2 linked regions of the Homo sapiens genome follow. The protein of the gene in region 2 interacts with the protein of the main gene of each other region in a pairwise test. Each region holds a gene or a part of one and is shown on either strand. Other genes may lie near its edges.

Region 1 (3,819 bases), on a different chromosome or scaffold from region 2:
GACTTGCATTCCATACTAGAATCAAAGTTAGATATATGCTACCTTGTTGAGTCAGCACATCTGACCAAGTTCAGAGCTATCATATTTTAACTCAACATTTATTCAACACACAACTTCTTGAGAATCTACTATCTGCCAGGCACTGGGGCTACAACACTTATCAAAACTGAAAAAATTCCCACTCTTATAGAGCTAACAGTTGAATAGGGGAGACAAATAGTAAACTAATAGGAAGACAGTTTCTATTGCATTCATTAATGCATTGATTCAATATATATTTACCAACCACATTATCTCTCTCTCTGTCTCTCTTTTTTTTTTTTTTTTTTAGACAGAGTTTTGCTGTGTTGCCCAGGCTGGAGTGCAGTGGTCCAATCTCAGTTCACTGCAACCTCTGCCTCCTGGATTCAAGTGATTCTCCTGCCTCAGCCTCCCAAGGCTGGGATTACAGGCATGGGATTACAGGCATGAGCCACCACACCTGGCTAATTTCTGTATTTTTATAAAGATGGGGTTTTGCCATATTGGCCAGGCTGGTTTCAAACTCCTGACCTCAAGCGATCTGCCGGCCTCAGCCTCCCAAACTGTTGGGATTACAGGCATGAGCCACTTTACCAACCACCTTCTCAAATGCTAGGTGCATTCAACATGAAGTAAATAAGGCATGGACTTGGCCCATGAGGATTTCTTGGTCTTGTGTAAACACCAACATATCAACAGTTTATTATACTTCAATATGATAAAGATACAGACAGAAGTATGTACAGATGCAGGGGGAGCAGAGAAGAAGGTCTATCTGAGTCTCTTGGTGAAGTCAGGGAAGGATTCACAGTGGTATGAAATTTGAAACGTGGGTAGGAGTTTTGCAAGTCAGTAAAGCAAGTGAACGCATCCCAGGCTAAGGGAACAGGAGAGGCAAAAGCATGGAGATGGGATAGAGGGAATGGTGCATTTGTGGAATTTCAGAGTTCAGAGGCGCAGGAACCTAAAATGAGAGCAGGGTGTGGGAGAAGGAGATGGAAGTGAAAGTCAGAGCACAGAGGGATGTGTCTGCAAGCAATGGGGCCCACTGGACACTCATCATTGTGCTGGCCACTGATGAAGACTTGAGGCAGGCCACCTGCTCACTCAGTCAGCTGAGACTGTCCTTGGAGCCCATCCAGGTACAGGGAGGGCCTCCTTAAAGCCCAAAATCTGACTCTGTGATGGGCCCAAACCCCAGAAAACCACACTGAATCTCTGGGGCCTTATCCACTCAATGAGCAGAAAGAGTCTTCAAGGAGATCAAGGTTGTTGGTTGTTCCCTACCCCTCATTTCCCAGGGTGCTTCTGCTGGGCACATCTAAGCATCGCCCTGTTCACACTGTGGCTCCGTTTTCCAAATGTGTCATGCTCCTTCTTGTCCTGCTGCCTAGAACACTCTCTCTTCCATAGGGACTTGTAGTGTGCTCAGAGGAAGGCATGCTTGTGCCAAAGGCAAGATCAAAGGCCCTTGTTAGAGTTCAGTGATGGAGGGAAATAATCTCAGTGGGAGGCTCATCCATCCCCTGTCCAGGGCTTAGTGCTTGTTTGTCTATGACATCCCTACCCATGGGACATCTCACTCTGCTTGCTTACCTCCTGGGACGAGAAATTCATCACCTCCTGAGCCTGCCCAATTGGACTGCTCTGATTTAGTTCTCACAATAGCCCTGTATGGTGGGTATTATTATTACCTTATCCTCATTTTACAGATGAGGATATTCAGGCTCAGAGACAGTAGTGACTTGTCCCCAGAAGTCTGCCCATGTCCCTGACATGAAGACCCTGTGGCTATGAAAACATAGCTCCTACATTAGCAGAATTATCATCTTCAGTGTCTTCATCCCTCAGGGGTCAAGCCTGCCCATGTCAGAACCATTTCCTGAGGCCACGGCCCAGCAGCTGACCTGGAAATTTGCTCCAACCCTGCCCTCCTATCCTTGCAAACCCACTGGCTTTACAGCAAATGGATTGGAGAGCCCACATTCCCTTGACCTCAGGTCCATGCCCCTGACTCTGCTTTATACCTTATCTTGACCCTCTAAAGCTCCCTCCCTCCTGCCCTGCCCCCTCAGGATGGTAGTTACTTGCCCAGTGAGCAGCTCACCAGAACTATTGAGGTCCTGTCTGCAGAAACAGCCCCAGGTGCTGTTGAGGGCAAGGCACTCCTCCTCGGGGCGGCAGGCCTTCTCACACTTGTCCTCCACAGTGGATGGGTCTAGGTGATGGGGCATGGAGAGAGAAGATCAGGATGCAGTGCGGGCTGGACTTGAGGCCCCCAAGTCCAACCCTTTCATTTCACCGGGGCACAAGAATCTTGCCAAGGTTGTGTGATACTTAGTGGAAGCATCAAGCCTGACTCCCAGTCCAATGGGATAAGTGAGAGCCCTAAAGCTGCCACCTGAACACTTACTACAGGCAAGACTCTATTCTAAGGACAAGGAATGTATTAGCCTATTCAATCAAAATGAGAAAGGACAGCATGGTGGTTAAGGCCATGGATGCTGGAGCTAGAATGCCAAGTTCAAATCCCAGCTGTACCATGCTCCAGCTCTGTGATACTAGGAGAGCCCCTTAATCTCTCTGTGCCCCTAACTGGGGTAATTAGGTAGCACTTACCTCGTGGAACTGGGGAGAGGATCAAATGAGTTAATACATTTGAAGTACTTAGGATAGCAACAAGGACATTGTGAGCATTATGTATTAGCTGTTATTTTTGCTGTACCCCCCCCCCCTTTTTTTCAGATCAGAACACTGAGGCTCAGGGAGGCAAATTAAACTTCTCAAATGGAGCCAAAATCGGAACGAGCATGAGTTCTGGATTTTATGCTACACACATTTATAAACTGGGAAATTTCACCCTTGAATGGGAATTTCTGGCTTGAAATGTTGGAAGGTCTCAACCCCTGTGTTGAGTTCTCACTGGGCAGGAGCTGAGTCGAGGCTGCTCTGCATCCTCTCCTGTCTCCTCTTGACTTGCTCCACTCACTCTACTGAGCCTGGGAGGCATCTCATTGGCTGTGTAGCTGCCTCCTCCAGGGCTCTGCTGCTCACCTGTGCAGTATCTCAGATTACACCAGGGAGTGCCTTCCAACCGGTACACATGGTACCCGCCTGGGCAGGCCTTCACCAGCACCTCTGTTTTCCAGAAACAGCAGTTGCCACTCCAATGGGCACAGGCAGTGTGGTTGGTGATGCCATCCCCAAGGGCAGGGTGGGTCCCATTCAGCCACATGGGAGCGTCTGTCTGGCATCGGTGCACCTGGACACAGGTCTCCGACATCCTTACTCCTCCTTCCCCTACAAAGCGGTACCAGCCGCTCATGTTTTTATCGCACCCCTGGGACCCTGCTGAGTTCTCTGTGCTTCGGAAGGGTTCATCCAGGAGGGTGTAATTCTGACAGGGGTCAAAACAGACATGAGCCTCTGGGGTGCCAGGAGCTCCGCAGTCCAGGTCCAGCCCATACGAACTGGCTTCAATGGGGTTTCCATAACCTGGGAAAGTGACAGAGTGCAGTTGGGTTTACTGAGCAATGCCAGAACCTACAGGATTTTTTCCCCTCCATGCTCTATTTTGGCTGTGCTAAGGACTCCAATGAGGACAATACACACACGGTCCATTAATTAAACATCAACTTCATCACCTTGGGGGCAGAATAATCAGTGAGGACCTTCTGTGGTATTTTACAGGCATTGAGGACATCAGGGCTACCGTCCTGCACAGCCTCCCTCCCTGCCTCAGAGTAACAAAGTTCTTTCCTGTGCATCATGCAAACAGCAGCCTTGTTTGACCAATAT
Region 2 (3,819 bases):
AACGTTGCTCTTCTCATGGCACTTAGAGTCTAGTTGAGAGAGAGAGACAAAAAATGTAAATGAACAAGAAAACAAGATAACTTCAGTTTGTTCAAAATGCTGCAAATGAAATAGAGTGGTTTGATATGATGATGCAGTTAGGTAAGGTGATTGATGAAGGCCTCTGCTTATACAATTTATTAAACTTTACTGAAAGAAGAAAAACATGGAATGACTCAGTTAATTCTTGATTTATGCTATTTTTATTTCTAAAGGTGAAACCTCACCTGCTATCCAGCTGCCCACACCTGCAGTCCAGAGCCCAAGCCCTGTCACACTTTTCCAGCCCAGCGTCTCCAGTGCTGCTCAGGTGGCTGTCCAGGATCCAAGTCTACCTGTCTATCCAGCACTCCCACCCCAACGCTTTACTGGGCCTTCCCAAACAGACACTCATCAGCTGCATTCTGAAGCCACTCACACTGTGAAGCAACCCACTCCTGTCTCTCTAGAGAGCGCCAACAGGATTTCAAGTAGTGCAAGTACTGCCCATGCCAGATTTGCAACTTCGACCATCCAACCTCCTAGGGAGTATTCCAGCGTTTCCCCTTGTCCCAGAAGTGCTCCAATCCCCCAGGCTTCTCCCATTCCACACCCACATGTCTACCAGCCCCCTCCCCTTGGCCATCCAGCCACACTGTTCGGGACACCACCAAGATTCTCTTTTCATCACCCTTACTTCCTACCCGGACCTCACTACTTCCCATCAAGGTAAATTAACATTTTTTTTCCTTTTACCTAAACATTCAGCTAATGAGTTTTTACCTGTGACAACATTTTTTTGTTTATTTGTTTTTAAATACTGAAAAGCAGACTTCTTCAATTCTGCTGACTAGGAGCCAAGCAGTTAACATAAATAGATGGAGAGGGCCAGGTGAGGACTGGGGTAGCTAGGGAGAGTGCAGCTCTAACTCAGCTCCAGCTGACTCTTGTTACATAAGAATATAGGCTTCAGGCAGTGGCTCATGCCTGTAATTCCAGCACTTTGGGAGGCCAAGGTGGGTGGGTAACTCGAGGTCAGGAGTTTGAGACCAGCCTGGTCAACATGGTAAAACTCTGTCTCTACTAAAAATACAAAAATTAGCCAGGCGTGGTGGCACGTGCCTGTGATCCCAGCTACTCAGGAGGCTGAAGCAGGGGAATCACTTGAACCTGGGAGGCGGAGGTTGCAGTGAGCTGAGATCACACCAACTTCACTGCAGCCTGGGTGACCATCTCAAAAAAAAAAAGAACAAGAATATAGGCTTTAATGTTGGATATAATTTTTCATGCAAAATAACTATAAGGGACCTTAAGATCATTTAGTCAAATGTATTGAGGTGTACTTATTGTATAGAGGGGGTGCATCTCAAACTTTATTGTGTATATAAATCGTGGTATTTTGTTAAAAATGCAGATTCTGATTCATTGGGTCTGGGGTTTAGTAGTATCCTATATGGGAGTATAGTACGCCTGATATTTGGCATTTCTAGCAAGCTCCCAAGTGATTGCCAATTCTGCTGGTTTACGGACCACACTTTGAATAGCAAGGGTATAGAGGAGGGCACTTGGTCTACGTGAAAAATTGTTTATTTACCTAGGTTAAATGACTAGACCAAAGTTATACTACCTCTTTGTGCCCTTTTTACCAAATTAGAAAATTTCCCACATAAATTACCAATAAAGGAATTCATTTTCATAGGGAAGTATCTAGGGAAAACAAATGTGTAACTTCATTTTGGAATGATAGAAATTTAACTCCCTTGGAAGTATTTTGATAGAGTGGTATTAGCCTCTGCTTTCCATTTTTTTTTTTTTTTTTTTTTTTGAGGCGGAGTTTTGCTCTTGTTGCCCAGGCTGGAGTGCAATGGCGCGATCTTGGCTCACCACAGCCTCCGCCTCCCGGGTTCAAGCGATTCTCCTGCCTCAGCCTCCTGAGTAGTTGGGATTACAGGCATGCGTCACCACGCCTGGCTAATTTTTTTTGTGTGTTTTTAATAGAGATGGGGTTTCTCCATGTTGGTCAGGCTGGTCTTGAACTCCCGACCTCAGATAATCTGCCCATCTCGGCCTCCCAAGGTGCTGGGATTACATGCGTGAACCACCATTCCCGGCCTAGCCTTTACTTTTCAATTACTGTTAAATGTGTAGACAAAGATGGTTTCTGTTGAGACGGGAGTATTAAACTGTCTAACACCAATCTTTTATTGTTTCTTACTTAGCAAGTAAATCTACTTCCCATTAGGGTATACCTACACCTCAATAGAAACAACTTTTGAGGTATATATTATGTTGCTTCAATTTATAATCAATTGCTTGCTTTTGGGCCCTTAGCTCAGGACTGGAAGAAAGTGGGACCAGAGGATTAGATCAGGAGAAAGGAAGATTTTTGTCATCTAGGGTTTGTTTTGTTTTATGTAGAATCTTTTTATCTTTTGCAGCCTTAATAAGTATTTTAGTTCAAGGGATCAAACCTCAAGAGACTTTTAATTTAAGGCCGGGGAGGTTGATAATCTCTTTTCATTGCTATCTGCTAGGATCTAGGATTTTACAGGAATTTTGGAGAATTTTATAAAATGTTTCCTACATATAAGAAGAATATGAAGGGTGTAGATTGAATTTAATGAATGAGTAAATTTGAGAACACTTGGCCTTAGTTAGAATCTTGAGGCCTATAACAAAAATTGTGGAAAATTGTATCTGCTACATAATTAATTTTGTAATATGGGAAATGCTTGGACCCTATTTACTCACAGGATAGGTGAAGAAGAGTCAATTACAATGGGCTGTGTACCACAGTCTCACTCTAGCTGTTACTACTTTTTTGTTTGTTGCATTTTTCTTCTTTTTAGTGTTTTGAGAGCTAAGAATTTTTACACGTAGTTTTTATAACAATCCTGTGACTTGGGTATAATATTCCCCTACTTTTTCAGTTAAATAAATGGATTAGTAAATAGCCTCATCAAGGTTGTACAGTGGCAGAGCCAATAGTCAAATTCAGGTTTGATTGATTTTGAATTTCATATTTGTCTTTTTTACTATATCAGTAAGACTTCTTTTATGACAGCTCCTCTTGATTGGCAGCTGTTAGTTGCTAGCAGAGAATCATATGGAAAAAATATATTTTGAATAAAAACCTCACATAGTCAAGTGGACATTGGGGCAGGTAATTTTCCTTACATATTACATAGATTAAATCATAGAAGTCTATCTTATTTATTTGGGACAAGGCTTGTAAGATTTGACTGTTAATGTATAAATTATCTGACACTTTAAGGAACATTTTAAAAGGAAGCTCTTGAAAGTAAGTTCTTTGTTTTTGTTTTTGTTTTTTTTTTGAGACAGAGTCTTGCTCTGTCACCCAGGCTGGAGTGCAGTGGCGCAATCTTGGCTCACTGCAACCTCTGCCTTCCAGGTTCAAGCAATTCTCCTATCTCAGCCTCCCGAGTAGCTGGGACCACAGGTGCCTATCACCACACCCGGCTAATTTTTGTATTTTTAGTAGAGATGGGGTTTCACCATATTGGTCAGGCTGGTCTCGAACTCCTGACCTCAGGTGATCCACCTGCCTCAGCCTCCCAAACTACTGGGATTATAGGCATGAGCCACTGCTCCCACCCAAAAGTAAGTTCTTGGAAGACAGAAACTACCTTTTTTGTTAATACTATTACTGCTAATTAATAATAATGCTATTGGAAGAACCAAATGAAGTGACTAGCTATTATACTGAATTTTATTTCATTTAAGAATGTCAGAGCAGTATGTCAACTATAAACATTAAGCTATGCATAGTTTTTTAGAAAA

The links.
Region 1: the proteins of SOX30 (region 2) and GP2 interact in a two-hybrid assay, tested with the Homo sapiens proteins (one large-scale study listed by BioGRID and IntAct).

What each region holds. Positions count from the first base shown.
Region 1 is NC_000016.10:20,320,741-20,324,559, forward strand, and holds part of GP2 (pancreatic secretory granule membrane major glycoprotein GP2 isoform 2 precursor), read right to left. Parts: intron 3,517-3,819; coding exon 3,076-3,516; intron 2,650-3,075; coding exon of another isoform or gene 2,641-2,649; intron 2,240-2,640; coding exon 2,129-2,239; intron 1-2,128. UniProt on the Homo sapiens protein: Functions as an intestinal M-cell transcytotic receptor specific for type-I-piliated bacteria that participates in the mucosal immune response toward these bacteria. At the apical membrane of M-cells it binds fimH, a protein of the bacteria type I pilus tip.
Region 2 is NC_000005.10:157,635,158-157,638,976, reverse strand, and holds part of SOX30 (transcription factor SOX-30), read left to right. Parts: intron 1-254; coding exon 255-747; intron 748-3,819. UniProt on the Homo sapiens protein: Acts both as a transcriptional activator and a repressor. Binds to the DNA sequence 5'-ACAAT-3' and shows a preference for guanine residues surrounding this core motif. Binds to its own promoter and activates its own transcription.